Regions from separate parts of the Homo sapiens genome. Here region 2 is linked to region 1. Evidence: fine-mapped expression QTL. Tissue or cell type: cultured neurons. Region 1 holds a variant in brackets; the other region holds the start of a gene. All regions are shown on one strand. Distances are from middle to middle. Region 1 overlaps NIPBL (NIPBL cohesin loading factor). Region 2 holds the start of NIPBL-DT (NIPBL divergent transcript).

The links. PIP is the estimated chance that this variant, and not a neighbour inherited with it, causes the effect.
Region 2: it holds the start of NIPBL-DT, and the variant in region 1 is fine-mapped to the expression of NIPBL-DT in cultured neurons (Aygun 2021, PIP 0.95).

The regions. Positions count from the first base shown.
Region 1 is chr5:36,926,326-36,935,380 of GRCh38, forward strand. The region is part of intron 1 of NIPBL (NIPBL cohesin loading factor); the gene reads left to right. Among named protein-coding and RNA genes, the nearest start is that of NIPBL, 54 kb to the left of the region's middle. The variant GTT/G (reference allele first, on the strand shown) is at 5,460.
Region 2 is chr5:36,871,743-36,880,797 of GRCh38, forward strand. NIPBL-DT (NIPBL divergent transcript) reads right to left here and starts at 4,952. Exons shown (of 1, transcript NR_046262.1): 1 at 1-4,952. It overlaps NIPBL (NIPBL cohesin loading factor), which reads left to right and starts at 5,027. Exons shown (of 47, transcript NM_133433.4): 1 at 5,027-5,436. RefSeq lists an enhancer at 4,323-4,372 and silencers at 4,783-4,892, 5,533-5,652.

The sequences.
Region 1 (9,055 bases):
GCTTTGTTCATGTGGTGGTGATGGAGGTTACTTGGAGGTATTCAGCTGGTAGATGGGCTGGCCAGAATAGTTCCAGATGGCTTTACCCATATAAGTGCCGCCTTGGTAGAGACAGCCAAAAGGCTCGATTCAGCGGAGACATCATGTGTAGCATCTGCATACAGCATCATCAGCATGGCTTTTTCATGGTCATGTGATATTTAACATAGTGGATCAGGGTTTCCAAAAAGTATTGTCAACATGCTTATTTGAAAGCTGTAAGATTTCTTATCACCTAGCCCCTTTCTGCTGCATTTTATTCACCATGCATGTCACAAAGGTCAGCCCAGATTCAAAGGAGAGGAATTAGCCATTACCTCAATATGAGGACTAGCAAATAATTTGTGGTTTTTATTTTTTATTTTTGTGGGTACATAGTAAGTATATATATTTATGGGGTATGTGAGATATTTTGGTATAGGCATGCCATGAGTACTAATCATGTGGTTTTTAATCTGCCACATTGAATTAAACCAATTATTTTAGATTGTGTAAATTCAAGTTGAAAAAAATTGGTAATAGGGCAAATGGTTTCATGTATTTTTTTACCGGGAACAAATTTAAACAGTTATTAGAATCAGAGCACCTATAATGGGAGTCAATTTTTCCTGAAGCTGAACCAAAATGTTTATTGGTTTGATTTGAAAGGAGAAGTTGGTTTTGTTGACGTTAGAACTATAAACACTTTTTCCTATAAATATGTATATTCTCCCTCTAATATTTGCTTTATGATTAACAGTGTACTATCATCTGCTTTTGTATCACGACTTGAGTTCAAGAGTTGTAGGTGTATGAGATCTGAGAAAAGAAAGAATCCTCCACTCCATTTCATTTAATGTTATATTCTCACCAATTTATATAACACTTACATATTATAAGTATTGTTTTCTCAAGGAGGATACAGGCATATTTTACTGAGAGGAGAAAAGAATATCAAGGCGGATTTTTGGTTTAAAATGTTATTCATATTCTAAACTTGTAGATCATTATAAGGATTTTGCCTTTGCTCTGAAAAAGTCATTGAAGGATTTCAAAAAGAGTGACATGATCCAACCTGTATTTTAATAGAATCTCTGATTGCTATGTTTAACTGCCAAGGAGTGCAAGAGTGAAAAAGACCAATTAAGAGTCTGGGAAGGGAGCATGGTGGCTTGGAAATGGTCGAATTTTGGATATATTTTGAAGGTAGAGACTCACGATCCAAAAGTTGTGTAAAAAAGATAGGAGTCAAGGATAATAAGATTTTTGGCCAAAGGAACTGGACAAATGAGTTGTCTTTAATCAAAATTAGGAGTATTGTAGAAGAAGCACGAAGAACAGTATAAGGAATTTATTTTGGAAGTAAGTTTGAGATGGTTGTTAGACATCCAAATGGAGATATCAAATAGGCAGTTGGATATACCAGTCTGGAGTTCAGGAGAGAGGTCCAGGCTGGAGTCTTTAATATATATAGTGTTTAAAATCCTTGAGACATGGAAATCACCAAGGGAGAATAAAGTGGTAAAGGAGACGGGTTTCGCCATGTTGGCCAGGCTAGTCTCAAAATCCTGGCCTCAGGTGATCCACCTGCCTCAGCCTCCCGAAGTAGATTACAGCCATGAGCCACCATGCCCGGCTGCAGTGATTTTTTTTTTTTAAATTTTCTACCACTTTCTTTCAATAAAACCATACTCGATGCACAAAAAGAGCAGGAAAGTCAGGAGACTGGGAAGCTTTGCAACTAACTTTGAATGTGTGGTCTTGAACACGTAATTTCATCTTTTTCTTATCTGTAAAACGAAGAGATTGGACTAGATTATTTGTAAGATGCCTTCCTACTTTAATATATCAGTGAATCTTTTCAAAACAGGGTAATTATATTGAATGTAACTGTCATCCTAGGGTAAGTGAAGTAGTCTTTAACTACATGCAGGTGACAGTTTGTAAGCTTGCTTAAAAACATGATTGCTTTGCCTATTCTTCTCAAGAAATTTTAGTCAAGTGCAAGTTAGAGCTAATTAATACAACCAAATCACAGTGTTTGTTTTTGCATTCCCAGAAATTGTTAGTACTGTATATGATCAGTATGTACAATAAATGTTTTTACTAACTAAAAAAATTTCTTAAGGAAAAATATATTGACCTAAGGAGAAATGTTTAGAGCTAGATAAAGGAGATTAATATCTCTAGATGCAATTTTACTTTACAACGTTATTGAGGTATGATCCGCTTAATATAAAGTTCACCTGTTTAAGTATACAATTTAATGGTTTCTAGTTTTAGAACCTTTTCATCAGTCCCCAAATTTTCCTCAAGCCTATTTGCAGTGAGTTCCCAACTCCCACAGCCCTCTCCAGTCCTGGCAACTACTGATCTGCTCTTTGTTTCTATAAATTTTTCTGGACATTTCATCTAAAAAGAATTATATGTAGTATTTTGCATCTGGCTTCTTTCACTTTGCATGTTTTGAGGTTCATTTATGACATAACGTATCAGTATTTTGTTCTTTTTTATTGCTGAATGGTAGTTCATTGTATTATGATATTTTGTTTGTCTATACACTAGTTGGTAGATACTTATATAATTTCCAGTTTTTTACTTTTATGAGTAATACTTTTTTGAGCATTCATGGAGAAATCTTTGTGTAGACATACGTTTTTATTTATCTTGGATACATTCCTAAGAATGGAATTGCTGGGTCATATGATAATTAACTTTTTAAGAAACAGCCAAACTGTATTCCAGTGTGGCTGTATCATTTTACATTTCTACCAGCAGTGTGTAAGGGTTCAAGTTTCTCTACATCTTCACCAACAGTTAATAGTGTCTTTTTTTATAACATTATGACAGTTTAATGGATGTGTCATGGTATCATTGTGGTTTCAGTGAGAATATACCTAATGACTAATGATACTGAGCACTTTTTTTTATATGTTTATAAGCCATTCACATGTGTTCTTTGGTGAAGTGATATTGAGCACTTTTTTTTGTATATTTATAAGCCATTCATATGTGTTCTTTGGTGAAGTGTCTTAAGTAAGTTCTTTGCCCATTTTCAAAGTTGTGTTATCTTCTTGTTCACTAGTGAGAGTTCATTTAAATTCTGAATACAAGAGCTTCATCAGATTTGTGATTTGGCAATATTTTCTCCCAGTCTATGGCTTGTCTTTTCATTTTCTTATTGATATCATTTGAACTATGAAAATTGTTAACTTTAATGAAATCCAGTTTATCAGTTTTATCTTTTATGGCTCATGTTTTTGTTATCTAAGAACTCTGCCTTGTTTTTGTCATCTAAGAACTCTGCCTGACCTAAGGTCACAGATGTTTTCTCCTATATTTTCCTTTAGATGGTTTATAGTTTAAGCTCATACATTTAGGTATTTGATCCATTTGAATTAATTTTTGTGTATGGTATAAGTTAATGGTCTGTTTTTAAATTTATTTTTGCATGTAAATGTCCAGTTATCTAAAAATCATTTGTTGACAAGACTGTCTTTTATTCCATTGAATTTTGTGGGCATCTTTGTGAAAAATCTAACATAAATACAAAGATTTATTTCTGGACTCTAGATTCTCTTCATTGATCAATCCGTATACCTGTCCTTATATTAATAGCACACAATCTTGATTACTGTAGCTTCATAGTAAGTTTTGAAATTGGGTAGTATAAGTTCTCCAACTTTTTTCTTCACTAAATTATTTTGGCTATTCTAGATCCTTTGTATTTTCCTATAAAGTTAGGATCAGCTTATTTCTATGGAAAAAAAACAGCTGGGATTTTGAAAAAGATTATGTTGAATCTATAGATCAATTTGAAGAGAATTACCATATTAACAATTTTGAGTCTTCTAATTTATGAGCATGGAATGTTTTAGATCTTTTTGGCTCAGCAGTGTCTTATAACAGTGTGCAAATACAAATCTTATACTGATTTTTAAAAATTTATTCCCAAATATTCTTCATGGTCCTAGTTTGAATGGAATTGTTTTCTTAATTTCATTTTTGCATTTTTGCTAGAATATAGAAATACAACTGATTTTTGTATGTTGATTTTCTATCTTGTGATCTAGCTGAGCTTTTTTTTGATTCTAGTTGTTCGTTGGTGGTTTCTTAGGATTTTCTACATACTGGACAGTGTCATCTGATAATGCAGTTTCATTTCTTCCTGTCTAATCTGAATGCATTTAATATCTTTTTAAGTTTTTTTCTTAAAATGTGTTACTTTTTGGTGTTTTGCTGTACTAACTAAAACCTACAGGACAATATTCAGTGGAAGGAATAAGAACAGGCATTTTTGTTTTTCTCCTGATAGGGAAGTTAGCTGTAGAATTTTCATAGATGCTCTTTATTAGGTTGAAGAAGAGCCTTTTTATTTCTAATTTTTGAGAGTTTTAAAAAATAGTGGTTGTTGGATTTTGTCAAGTGTTTTTCTGTGTCTTTCAAAATGGTCATGTAGCTTTAGTTGCTATTTCTATTAATAAGATGTTTTACATTAATTTATTTTTAGATGGTTAACCACCCTTGCATTCACAGGATAAATCCCATTTGGTCATAATGTGTAGTCATTTTTATATGTTGATGAATTTGGTTTGCCAGTTTTTAAAAAATAATTTTTGTATGTGTGTTCATGAGGGATATTGGTCTGTAGTTTTCTTGCATTGTCTCTGTCTGGCTTTGGTGATACCAGACTCAGCTGGGAAATATTCTCTAGTTTATAAAACAGTTTATAAAAGTTTGCTATTCTTTCTTATATATTTCATAAAAATCATTGGTGAGATCGTCTGTGCCTAGGCTTTCTTAGTGTGAAGATTTTTAATAAGTAGTTCAGTTTTCTTATTTGTTAGGGATCTATTCAGAGTTTCTATTTCTTGTTGAGTCTGTTCTGGTAATTTGTCTTTTGAAGAATTTCCTTTTTTTTTAATATAAGTTGTGTAATTTGTTGGCTTAAAGTTAATATTCCCTTTTAATTCTTTCTTTTTTTATTTTTTTGAAAAGGAGTCTCACTCTGTCACCCAGGCTGGAGTGCAGTGGTGTGATCTCGGCTCACTGCAGCCTCTGCCTCCTAGGCTCAAGTGATCTTCCCACCTAACCCTCCTGAGAAACTAAGACCACAGGTGCATGCCACCATGCCTGGCTAATTTTTGTATTTTCTATAGAGACGAGGTTTTTCCTTGTTGCCCAGGTTGCTCTCGAACTCCTGGACTCAAATGATCTGCCCACCTTGGCCTGGAAAGTGCTGGGATTATAGGCATGAGCCATCACACCGGGCCTTCCCTTTTAATTTCTAAAGTATTGGTAGTGATTTCCTCTCCTTCATTTCTGATTTTGGTAATTTGTGTCTGTTCTCTCTTACTTTCCTGATCATTCTATTTAAGACATTGTCAATTTTGTTGATTATTTTTTAAGAACTAATTTTTGAATTCATTCGTATGTCTCTG[GTT/G]TTTTTTTTTTTTGTTTATTTTTACTTTTATCTTTATTTTTTTCTTCTTCCTGTTTTTGATTTTGTTTACACTTTTTCTAGTTTCTTAAGGTATGGAAGCATAAATACTGATTCGAGGCTGTTCTTTCTAATATGGGCATTTAAAGCTATAAATATTCCTATAAAACTGCTTTAGCTGTATCCCATGAAGTTTAATATGTTGTGATTTCATTTTCATGCAGTTTTAAGTATTTAATTTCTCTCATGATTTCTTCTTTGACCCATTGATTTTCTCAGATTTCTTTCGGTTATGGGTTTTAATTTTATTCTTTTGTTGTCAGGGAACACCCTTTATATGATTTGTTGTAAATTTAATGAGATTTATTTCATGGTCCAGCATGTGATCAATTTTGGAGAATGTTCTTGTATGCTTAAAAGGCATTGAGTATTCTGTGGTCTTTGGGTGGAGTGTTCTGTAAACTTAAGTTAGGTCATTTTGGCTGATAGTGTTGCTGAAGTTTTTTACATCATTGTTAATTTTCTCTCTAGTTATATTTATCATTCAGTTCTGTCGGTTTGTGCTTCATATATGTGGCAACTTCGTTGTTAGGTATGAATACATGTATAAACGTTATATCTTCCTTATGTACTGACTCTATCATTATGAAATATCCCTCTTTTTCTTTATTACTATTTATCTTCAAGTCTGTTTCATCTGCTGTTAATAGCCATTCCAGCTTTTTTATTGTTTCTGTTTGTATGGAGTATATTTTCTATTATTTTACTTTCAACCTATTTGTATCTTTGAATCAAAGAGTGTCTTTTGTAGAAGTATATAATTGGGTCTTGTTATTTGAACCAATATGATAGTTTTTGGCTTTTGATTGTCATATTTAGCCTATTCCCATTTAATGTGATTTTTGATATGGGTGAATTTACTTATGCCATTCTTCCTTTACTGCCTTCTTTTGTGTTAAATATTCTTTTAGTGTACTATTTAAATTCCTCTGCTGTTTTTTTTTTTTTTTTTTTTTTTTTAAAGAACAGGATCTCATTCTGTTGCCCAGGCTGAAGTGTATTGGCTATTCACAACTGCCATCATAGCATACTACAGACTCACACTCTCTGCTCAAGTGATCCTTTCACTTCAGCCTTGTGAGTAGCTGGGAGTACAGGCATATAGGAGTACATTGGAGTACAGGTGTACGCTACTGCATGCAGCTCTCTTGATTTTTTTTAAAACAACTTTTTAGAGTTATTTCCTTGGAGGTTACTGTAGGGATTACAATATGCTTCTTAATTTATCACAATCTACTTGTATAGTTAAATTTTTATTCCAGTATAGTAGTAGAAAAACTCTTCCTTTAATAAAGTTTAAAGTAGATAAGTTTTTAAAAACATACTGTTTTTTAAAAATGTACTGTTTTTAAAATCCTAATTTTTATACTTAGTTATTTTTAGCAGTGTCATATTGAATTCTGTTACGAGTTTCATGGTTACTTATAATAACCAGTTTCCTCATTACATAGTAGAATGGTATTTTTCCAATTTGAACTCTTAATTTTAAATTTTCTTCTACCTTTAAAATTCTGTGATTCTGTTTGGTCAAAAGGGTCTGTGGAAATAATACTTGATATGTTTATATAGTGGTTATTCAAAACTTACTCATATATTATTTGCTGACATCTGATGAGATATAGTTCTAGAGACATTTTTTATTTCTGGACTTTAGTCTTGGATGGATGAAAATTTGATCCGATTTCAGGAAAGAAAAGGATTATAAATTAGAATCCATAACATGGTAAAAGAAGTTTGTTTTTAATGTCAATCTAATGGTAATTTTTGATCATTTAATTTTTTAATTTAATTAAATCTAAGGCTGAGCAGATTTTTCTGTATGGTTTCAGACACCAGTAGTGAAAATTACCCAATTCCATTTAATTCGGTAGCAGTAAGATACCAGTTGGCTTTTATTGATTAATCTTCCTTGCTCCTTCATCAACTATACCATATTTATATTTTATAAGTAAAAAGTTACTCATATTGCTAGCTTTTTGTGGATCTGTTTTGGATTTTATTCTCAATTTTCCCAAGGATTTTTACATTTTCAGTCCATGTAAAACTTCAACTCTTATTTTTCTTAATAAGAGTATGGGGGGGTGGGCAGTTTCTATAATTAACTGATAGGTCTCTGTTAAAATGAGGTTCTCTTTCTAATAAAAAACAAATGTGACGTGGCTAATGTAAGTTTAACATGTAAAGATCATGGTATTAAGATCACTTGATTTATGTTTGTATATGACCACCTGGTGTCATCATTTTAACTACATGAACTTGCTCAGCATCCAGATTTCACACTCTTTAACTTAGTGTTTGATTGTGTAAGACGTTGTGTTTTTTATCTAATACATTCTCTAGCAGTGTTATATTTTATTTCAACCTGGTAACCATATGACCAGCATTGTGCTAGGTATTATGGAAAGATTTCAAAAATTAATTTTTAAAAATTAATGAGACAAGATTCTGTACCTAAGGTGCCAGTGAAATGATTTGATAGAATGTAATTATGCATGACTGGATGCTGACTTTGTGTGCATCTAATACAGAAATTCATTAAAGGAAAAGATTGTAAAGTAAAATGGTAGGTAGAGGATGGTTTCCAGGAAGAGTTGGAACTTGAAGGATGGTAAGTGAAATGATAGAGGAATAGAGGATAGATAGATTTTTGTCTAGGTGTCATGATAAAATAGTAACATAGACAGTCCTTGATTTACAGTGGGTCAACTTTACAGTTTAGATTACTAATGAATGGGAGCAATGGTAGAAATTATAAGATTACAGATAGTGGCTTTTCATTTTAGAAATATTTGAGCACTAACATTTTAAGGGGAAATGATTGTCACATTGACACATTCATACATTGGTACTGTAAGAATTTGTAGTGCCAAAAAAGAATCATGAATGAATTCCCACATAATGAAGCTATGAAGAACTTTCAGAGGCCATGGAAATAAATGAATTTTTGAAGAGCTATAGGTAGACCTAAGTAGCTAGAGTTAAGAAATTATCAAAGATAATGAACCACTGGAGAAAGTGGAGTCAGTAGAGTCAATCTAAGGTACAAGAAAGAAGATTGAGTCACAGAAACCAAAGAATGAGTTACCAGATAGAAGGACTCACACTCACCATGCGCGTTGAATGTTGCAATACTGTTTCTCTTCTCTTCAGTGTCCCTCTTTTCCTCCTTGTAGCTTAAATTCAAAGGTCATTTAATCATTTCCTTGCATACAAATACCTTCAGTTCCTTCGCTCCTCTCTGTTTTGGCAAAACCACAGCTTTGGTTAAATCTCACCCTTGCAGCTAAGTGGGACTGGAAAATAATTCAAAAAACATAATGACTGGTCTCACTTTAAAGGCAGTGGGCTCTTAATGTTACCCAGCAATTGTACCACACTTCTTTGATCCATTCACTCTCCTAGATGATTGTTTCATTCTTTTTCCTCTCCTGAAAACCTCCAACATCTCTTCTTCATCAAGGCAATCAGAAAAGTTTTCACAAGTACCTGACATCACATTTGTCCTCCTATTCTTTGTTAAACCTACTCTAAACAGGT
Region 2 (9,055 bases), 55 kb before region 1:
AAGGAATATGTTTTACAAGGTAATCTAACACATATACACATGAACAAATGTTTACTTAAAAACACATACCCTTACCATCTGTGATGTACGCTTTTATTTTCTATTCTTTTCTCTATTTTAAATAAAAAATGCTAGTCATAATGCAATAAATTAATTTCATGACCCATAGTGGTACCATAATCCACAGTTTAAAACACTGGTCTGGAGCAGATGCTTTGACTGCAAGGTAACCTACTCAAGAATGCTGTTAAAATGAGCACCATAAGCCTCTCTTCATACCTATTTTAGATGTTTTAAGTTTTTAACAGATTTTATATTCTTCCTTCATAAATACAGTAATTTTTTAAATGATGTTTTTCCAGATTAGTTCAGTATTAAAATACTTGACTAGTTTAACTCTGGTTCACATGCAGAGTATGTGTAGGTTCCAGAAAGATTAGGCTTTCATGAAACTTTATGGTCTTAAATAATTTTACATTAAAATACTTCAGAAGTGCATTTTTTGAGGCCCTTCCCTCTGTGTAATTCTTATGCATTACACAGTGAAACTTGTAGTATAATGTGGAACTGGTCACTTTGATTTAGTAACATAAGGTATAGATGCATGAAAACATAAACAGTAAGGCCAGGCACAGTGGCTCACGCCTGTAATCCCAACACTTTGGGAGGCCGAGGCCGGGGGATCACGAGGTCAGGAGATGGAGACCATCCTGGCTAACACGGTGAAACCCCATCTCTACTAAAAGTACAAAAAATTAGCCGGGCGTGGTGGTGGGCGCCTGTAGTCCCAGGTACTGGGGAGGCTGAGGCAGAAGCATGGCGTGAACCGGGAGGCGGAGCTTGCAGTGAGCCGAGATTGCACCACTGCACTCCAGCCTGGGTGACAGAGCAAGACTTCGTCTAAAAAAAAAAACAAAAAAAAACAAAAAAACCATAAACAATATAGGAGTGTCATAGGATTATAAATAGATGGCATGGATAATAAAATCTACAAGTTTAGAGAAAATTCGTAATTATAGGTGAGAAGTATTAATGAAAGGACAAAGCTTGTTCTTAAAGGATCAGAATAGGCCAAGATGAAAAAAGGCATCCATGGGAAAAGAACTGTTCATTTCTATAATTTTAACAAAATAGATAATCTATGTTGAATAAAATCCATAAATACTATTTCCAAATTTGATTAAGGTATTTACTTTGAAAACCTGAAACAGGAACATATTTACAGTGTTAAGTGATTTGATAATTTTGTAGTTCTGCCCTAAAAATCAATATCCTTAATTAACCCTTCATCAGTTTCTTAAGTCATCTGTCATCCTGAAAGCAAGTTAATTATTCTAAATGTTAAATAATTTTGGTAGTGTCTAATCTATAAAACATACATACACTACCAGTTTTTTTTCTACCTTTAACAAATTCGTTCCCATAAAAGACAATTTTATCACTAACAAAGGATAACTGGCAGGCATAAAATAGTGAGTAGAAAATGATTTTCTAAAATTTTTCATTTCTATCATTTTATAGCAAGTTGCATTTATCTTAAAGATAAATATTCTTCAATAAAAATAACAATTCAAATTTTTCAGTTGTAGAAATTCCTGGTGATGACATTTGATACAAATAGTTTATCCCTGAAATCCATTTAAAATTTTTAATCAAATCTTCTGCAATTCATTGATCAAGAATACATACGAGACTATCCAGGGATATTTCTAGCAAAGAAAACTGAGTCATGCAACTCAGTTCTTGAAGCAAGGAGGCAATTTAAAGTCAGAATAAAGGTTTACTGGGCTATCCTCAATGGACAAGTGGAGGATGTAAGTCACCTGATTTGGAACATAAAAGACTTAAAAATGTAAGAGCAAAACAAATGGATGGTATTGGGAAAAATAATTATTAAGAAAAAAAAACCCAAGACAATGAAATGAAGAAAACACTAATATTAGATTAACAGATTCTATGTAAGATCTCAACTTGGATACTTAAATTTATGCAAGCAAAATACCATTTGATTTAATAGAGAAATACTGTGATATGAATTGAAACAATTTCTTTGATTCTATAACCTGGAAAAAAAATGGTATAAACTATATACAAGTTAAAACCCTCAAAGGCAGTGTTGTTTTCATTCACTGCCATGCATGAGATGTCTAGCATAAAGCTAATTAGCGCCTAATAAGTCCTCAATAAGGGAAGAAACTAAAAAAACTTAAAAATTTTAAATTAAATGACACAATAATGCCAAGACTTTCCAAAGCAGATTGACTGTAGCAGCTGCAGTTACCTGGACATGCAAAATTACTAGTTTACCAGTAACATTTAAGAAAGCAGACAAGAAGATAATTGTGCTTCTATTAGCGAATTGAAATAATGGTATTTTGAAACTGAGTGAAAAACACATTCTGAGTCATCTGTATTAACTTAAAGCTGTTCTGAAGATTAATGGGAAAAATAATAATGAATAGACGATTGGATTTACTAAACAATGTTTGATTAATTGTATTAATGGTTATAAAATACCTATCAAGGCTGTCTTTTCTTGTCCAAAAATTCAATACATGAAATATGAAAATTTGTAATACCATAGCCAAAGCCTTATTGCATAGCTTCTAGCTTACTGATATATTTACTTATTTTAATTTAAAAAGCCTGTTTTTCCAGCCACTAGGAAATAAGATTTCTCACGTTTTATAGTACTCAAAAATCATGATTAAGTATATCTAATGCTAACCTAAGTGTAAGCAAACAGCAAACTAAATGGTGAATTAAAATATCCACACCAAGCCTGACCTCAGCTTTCATTGAACCTTTTCTTCAGAAGAAAACTAAAAATAAATTTCACTAGCATTTGCTTTGCTTGACAGCATAATTGAGTAGCAACCAAAGTAGCCACATGTGGTCCTTTATGTAAGGCCTTCTAGCCTCAGAAACACACACCTTTTGAATTAGCGTGCCTGGTACCCATTTGTGCCCAATAAATACTTGCTGAATGAACTTTTCCAATAGTGCTGGATTTGCTCTGAGCCAACCAAATTCTCACTTTTAATGTATTTTGAAAGACAGAGGACGACAAGATGAAGAATGCAGTTTGAGACTCAGAAGAGCAAACATAATCGGCCCAGTATGGATATGATCATTTGATGCACTGTCCTCGGGCATGCTCATTTACAGAAGCCTAAAAACAAATTTTATCCCTCATTTGTGGGTTTCTGGTGTTGTGGAGGGCTTTCCAATGTTTAGAAGCAATATATTTTTATAGAATTCTGTAATAAACGTGTTTTAAATCTTTTATAAAGCTCTCTGTAGCATATAAGTACATATTAAAGACAGAAATGGGGGAGCATCAAGGCCCTTATAATCGCATTCATTCCTTAACCACATACTACGCATCTACTGTGTGGCATTCTAGGCGGGGGCCGTAACACCAGTGCAGAAAAACACAACCTCTTGTCCTCTTAGAGCTTACATTGCACTGGGGAAGGAGAGATAAGAAGATAAACAAGTATGGATATGTAGACTGTCCAAAGGATAAAATGAGAAGGGGGCTAGGGAACTTTCAGTTTAAAAGTAGCCGCGGAAGCACCGAGTGACACGAGCAAAATCCTGAAGGTGAAGGAGCAAGCCCTGTGGACGACGCTCAGGGAAGAGTCCTACTCGCAAGGATGCCAGGGCAGGCCCGCCCCCACCCTCAACGGCGCGCGGGGACTTCTGCCGCAGTCAAGGCTTTGGCTCACTCCCCTCAAGACGGGAAGCCATTCGCAGGGCCTAGAGAAAAGGAGTGACAGGATCTTGGCCCCCTGAGTGGCCTGAGGCAAAAGGAATAATCTAAGCAAGTTTTCCTACTTACTTTTAGCGCACTGGTACACACACAAATACACAATACAATTCATATAACACGAATTTCGTCCCGGTTGAGTAAAATTCCGCTTACCTACTGCACTTTTTACCGAAAATAGCCCCTTTTTAATTTACACAAACTTAATAGAGAACGGTGGAACAATGGTTACTTCTTGTTTTACAATTTAAAAACTACAACAACCATAGTACTGTACGTATAATCACATATTGTATTCCAGCCTTGTCCAGCGCCTCAGTTTTCCGAACCTAAAGAGGAAAACGATGTTTGAAATCAGCTGGCCGCAGGCCCGCGGGTCGCCCGCAGTCACCGGTGGCTGAGTCGGGGCCGGCGGTTCTCCCCGCGCGCTCGGCTCCACCCACACCTAGAGGGGGGCGCCCGGGCAGCCGCGGGCGAGCTTCTCGCTCGCGCAGCGTCGCCTACAGGCCTTTATCCTGACCGTTAGAGAAGAACCCAAACCTCTGCCGACAAAAAGCAAAAGCAGCGGAGACCGCGTATTTCCAGAAATAAACGCATCATCACAAACACGATTCCAATTCAATCCAGCCGACAGTCGTCTTCACCTCCAAAGGTTGCGTTCTTATTCGCAGAAATAACACGCAGTCGGGCGTAAGGTCCCGGCTCTCAAAAGGCAAGGTGTACGATCCATCCATCCACCCGGCTGCAGGGACACCATTTAAAACGGGCATCATCGCCATCGAATCGCGGGCGTCCTCTGTGGGGCCGCCCGGAGATCGGCTCCCTAAAGCTAACGACGACCTGGGACAGCCAGCGCGGCCTCCAGCCGCCGCCGTCGGCGACCTGAGAGCCCGTCCGGGCCTGAGTGCCCCCCACGCTCACGACCACCACCGAACTCGGGCCCCGCTCCTGTCGGCCTCCAGGAAAATAAAGACAGAGGAGAGCCGGCCCGCCTGTGTCGCAGGGCAAACGTCGCTCTGAAGCATCGACAATACTGGCAACATCCACAGCCGCCCTGAGGGGACGGGCGTAGAGGAGAGCTGCCGCCTCCCGGCTGCTGGGCCCGGGTGCCGCGCGGCGCGGCCGAGGACGCGAGCCCAAGTGGCGGCAGCGGCGGCTGCGGCGGTGGCGGAAGTGGAGTGGGGAAGAGGGGGTGGTTGTTAGTGTTTGGCGCCGGCGGAGGGAGTCATTCCTGCAGCTGCACTTCCGGTCGGCATTTTGTTCTGAGAGGGAGAGACGGAACGAGAGAGAGACACACACAGGGCTCCTTCCCCCCGCCCTCCCCCCCCTCCCTCCGTCGGTACCGACTCACCCGACACCACCAAGCCGCAGGGAGGGACGCCCCCGCCGACAGGAGAATTGGTTCCCGGGCCCGCGGCGATGCCCCCCCGGTAGCTCGGGCCCGTGGTCGGGTGTTTGTGAGTGTTTCTATGTGGGAGAAGGAGGAGGAGGAGGAAGAAGAAGCAACGATTTGTCTTCTCGGCTGGTCTCCCCCCGGCTCTACATGTTCCCCGCACTGAGGAGACGGAAGAGGAGCCGTAGCCACCCCCCCTCCCGGCCCGGATTATAGTCTCTCGCCACAGCGGCCTCGGCCTCCCCTTGGATTCAGACGCCGATTCGCCCAGGTAAATTCCTGCTCTTTATTTCGGCGGCGGCGGCGGCGGCGCCGGCGCCAGGTCCTCAGCGTCTCTCCTCCTCGCTCCCCTCCCCGCCGTTTCCTTAGCGGCCCCAGGTCTCTTCCACAGGCGAGTCTAGAGTTCGCTCCTCTCTGGTGGCAGCCGCCTTGGGTAGCGGTGGTTTTGTACCCTCTCCCGGCCGGCTCCGGTGGCGGGGACTGGGCTCCTGCTGGGCGGCCGGGGAGGCGTAGGCCCGGCGGAGAGTGCAGGCCGCGGGCCAGCGGAATCTACTTGAGCTCGGGGATTAGGAGAGCTCCGGGCTGAGCGGAGCGACTGCTGGTCGGTGACAGGCCTCGCCCGGGAGTGGAGCCGTAGCTAGTGGGGAGGCGGAAACAATACAACTAACAGCAAATGTGCCCTGATCGTCCCCATATTTACAACTTTCCCGGTCCGGGAGTGGGGAACGTCCCAGTGAAACAAACAACCTCCCTTCTTCCCCCTGTGACCCCATGAAGGGAGGAAGTAGTTTCAGTTAGTGAGACAAACGTAAATACTCAGACGCGGATCCAGTGGTAATTCTTTCTCTTTCTAAAACTTGTTTGGACGTTGGAAAGTTCATAAAGACTCATTTTCTTTTTTAAAGAATTAAATCGTCCACATGAATATTTAATACAGAAAAACATACTGTGGTAGACACTGCACATCTCCCCCTCCCCAAGAGCTTTTATCTTGTTGTTTTGACAGTGTGTTGTTGCACATGGACTTTTTATTCAAAGACAAGTATAAAGTACTTGACAGGTTTACTCTGCCACTTTCTATTTGTATGCGTTATGTAAGGGCAGTTTTAAGCGACTATACGTAAAACACTCAGGTACTTCCTGACCAAAACGTGTAGGAGCATACAAAGAATTTTAAGTGTTCTGAGAATTGTGCTGAGATACGGGTAAAACCACTTTTCTTTTCTTTTTCCAAAAAAGAAATTAAGTTATACTTAAAATCCTTGGGAGGTTAAAAAATTGTAGAAGGTGCCATCCTTTTATGTCAGGGCAGTTCTTCTTGAGGTCCCAGGATTGTCATTGGCTGTTTGTGCCATGATGTTTGACTGTGTAATGAGAGAGGTGTCATTTTAATAGGTTAAATGTATCTGTAAATGCTGGAGAAAAATATCAGTTCTAACTTGACAAGTTCTAGTTCATGAGTAAGTTAAGTGTTTCGAGCTTGTTTATGGAGGCGTTCATAATGTAGGTTGGTATAAGGGGGAAACACCAATTTAAAATTCCTCAGTCAGGCAAATTGCTAGAAAAGTGTACCTGGGTTACACGTTTTGATATTTTGTTTCATATTCGCTGAAGGAAAACTTTCATTGGTTAAAATGAAGCAGCACTGCTCAGCGAAATCCCTTGTTTTACTAGTGTTTGTTACATTGGTTCATATTTTTTGTGTCATTAAATTATTGTCACTGTAGAATAAGTTATTTTGTGGAGGTTATTTTTGAGTTTAGCGTCCTGATTACAATAAATTGTTTCACATTTCCTGCAAACGTACGGATAAATGTTTAAAAGAATGAAGTTAATATAGCTGTCACGTACTAGGCATGTTTTTAATGCTATAAATCCGTGTAGTAGTCAGTAGCGTGTCCGTGATTTGTATTGGTCAGGGAGCAGTTTGAATTTTAAAAAGCCTGAAGCTCCTGCTGAGCCCCAATCCCGGCCTCCCTCCCTCCCACTAATCTCCCATTCCTGTCTTTGTGCTGCCTGCTCCTGTTAGACACTGTTTGCTACGGGGCCTCAGGCCTACTGCGGGTGGGGGGGTGTGCGAGTGGGGGGCATGCCAGGGAGGGAATGCAGACGGGAGGAATACTTCACATCTTAAGAAAGCAGAGGGTTTGTTTTTTTGGGGATGGAGGTGGTAAGGGCTTCATTATAAATGTTTAAAAGGCCTTCATATATTCCTGTGATTGTCTCTACAACTTTTATTTCAAGGGATAAACATATTTTTACTAAAGATAATAGAGGAGTTGTGCTTGCTTAATTTTCACGAACTGAAGCAACTTATTTTTAGAGGTTGTCTTATGCAGATGTTTGAATAAGTGTGTTAGAGATGGGTTTATGTGATTGATTCTTTTTTTTCCTGAGACTTTGGAATTGTTATAGTGAATTAGTTCTTCCCAACTTATTTTCCCAATTCTACATATTTAGTAATTTGTGAGTAATATAGGTTGTGTGATAGCTTTCATTATGATAGCATAAACATTTCTTTAAATTTAAAAATATGTTTTGTTTGGTCCAAACCAATTAAATACGTCATTTTTAAAGGAGAAAACATTGTGTAAAATTCAAATTGTAAAATTTAAACTTGAACTTTAAATCTCTGATAACCTAGTTGGAGAGAATAGTTTGTTTCCCTAAAGAGTGTAGAGTGTTCTGCTTCCCCTCTGTTGGTTGGAATATTCACTAGTGGCTAATCATCTATTTCCATTAAAAATTAAAATTCAGTGAAAGGAGAAATCAGAAGTGTTCCAGTAACCTTATAATCCTAGTTATATTATTTGGAGAAATATTTTCTCATACACCTAAAGGAAATTTCAACAATGTCGCTTATTGTTTCTCTTAACTCTGAAGAGTTGTCAATAACTTTTGTTACTTGAAAAGAGATTTCAAGTAAATAATGAAAGTAAATCAGAGTTGAACATTAAATAGATAATTTTCAATGTTTGAGAAGTGTATATAGGATGCTTCCTTTTTAAAGTTATTCAACAATTTGTTTACTAAAGTTATCTGAGAACATTTTTGAACCTGTTCTAGAGATCATTATAATATTTTCTGCTTTTAAGGAAAAGTTATACATTACTTGAAAAAAGAAAAACAGTCTACTTGAGATTCTTTTTAGGGATGTAAAGTGAAAGTTTTTACTATGGCAGTAAACTTGGTTCTTCATAGTAATCATTATTAAATTTCAAAAATATGAGCAAGCTATACCAATACAAAATTTTCTTTACTTGCAGCCGAAAAATGTATTTTCTAAGGCTTCTTCAACTAATTTCATATTTAATTTTTTGGTACCAATCCATCATCAAACTGTCATAGAAATATTTGAACATATCTGTGTTACATGTTTGAAATACCCCATTGTGGTATTTTTACTTTCTCAAAATAAGATGTAGTAATTAATAATATAAGAGTAAATAAAAACCAGGAGTTTGAGTTTTATTTAATTTCATTTAATCCTCCTTTCTGGTGCTTATTAGGAAAAGCATAATTTGGAAGAAATTCTAAAATTTTAAATTAAGATTTCAGTTTTATGTGAAGTGATTAGGGAGTGTGAGGTAAACAGTAATTCCTTTTAGAGAAATGTAACTTTAATTCTGTTTATCACATTTACTTGCCATAAAAATGAATGGGAAATAATTGACTAGGAACCTTTATAGAAGGCTGACAACTAACTGTTCAGTTGAACATGCTTATTTTAATATCCTGAGCGTACTAGGTTAGGTTTGGTGGTAATTTATGGTCTTATATAGCCTTTAAAAATTGTTTTAAGATGGACTTTTTAAGCAAAGTTTTTCGTTTTTTCAGCAGTTGTCATTTATAATAATTCTTCGTATTTTAAAACTAGTCCTTTTTCAAGG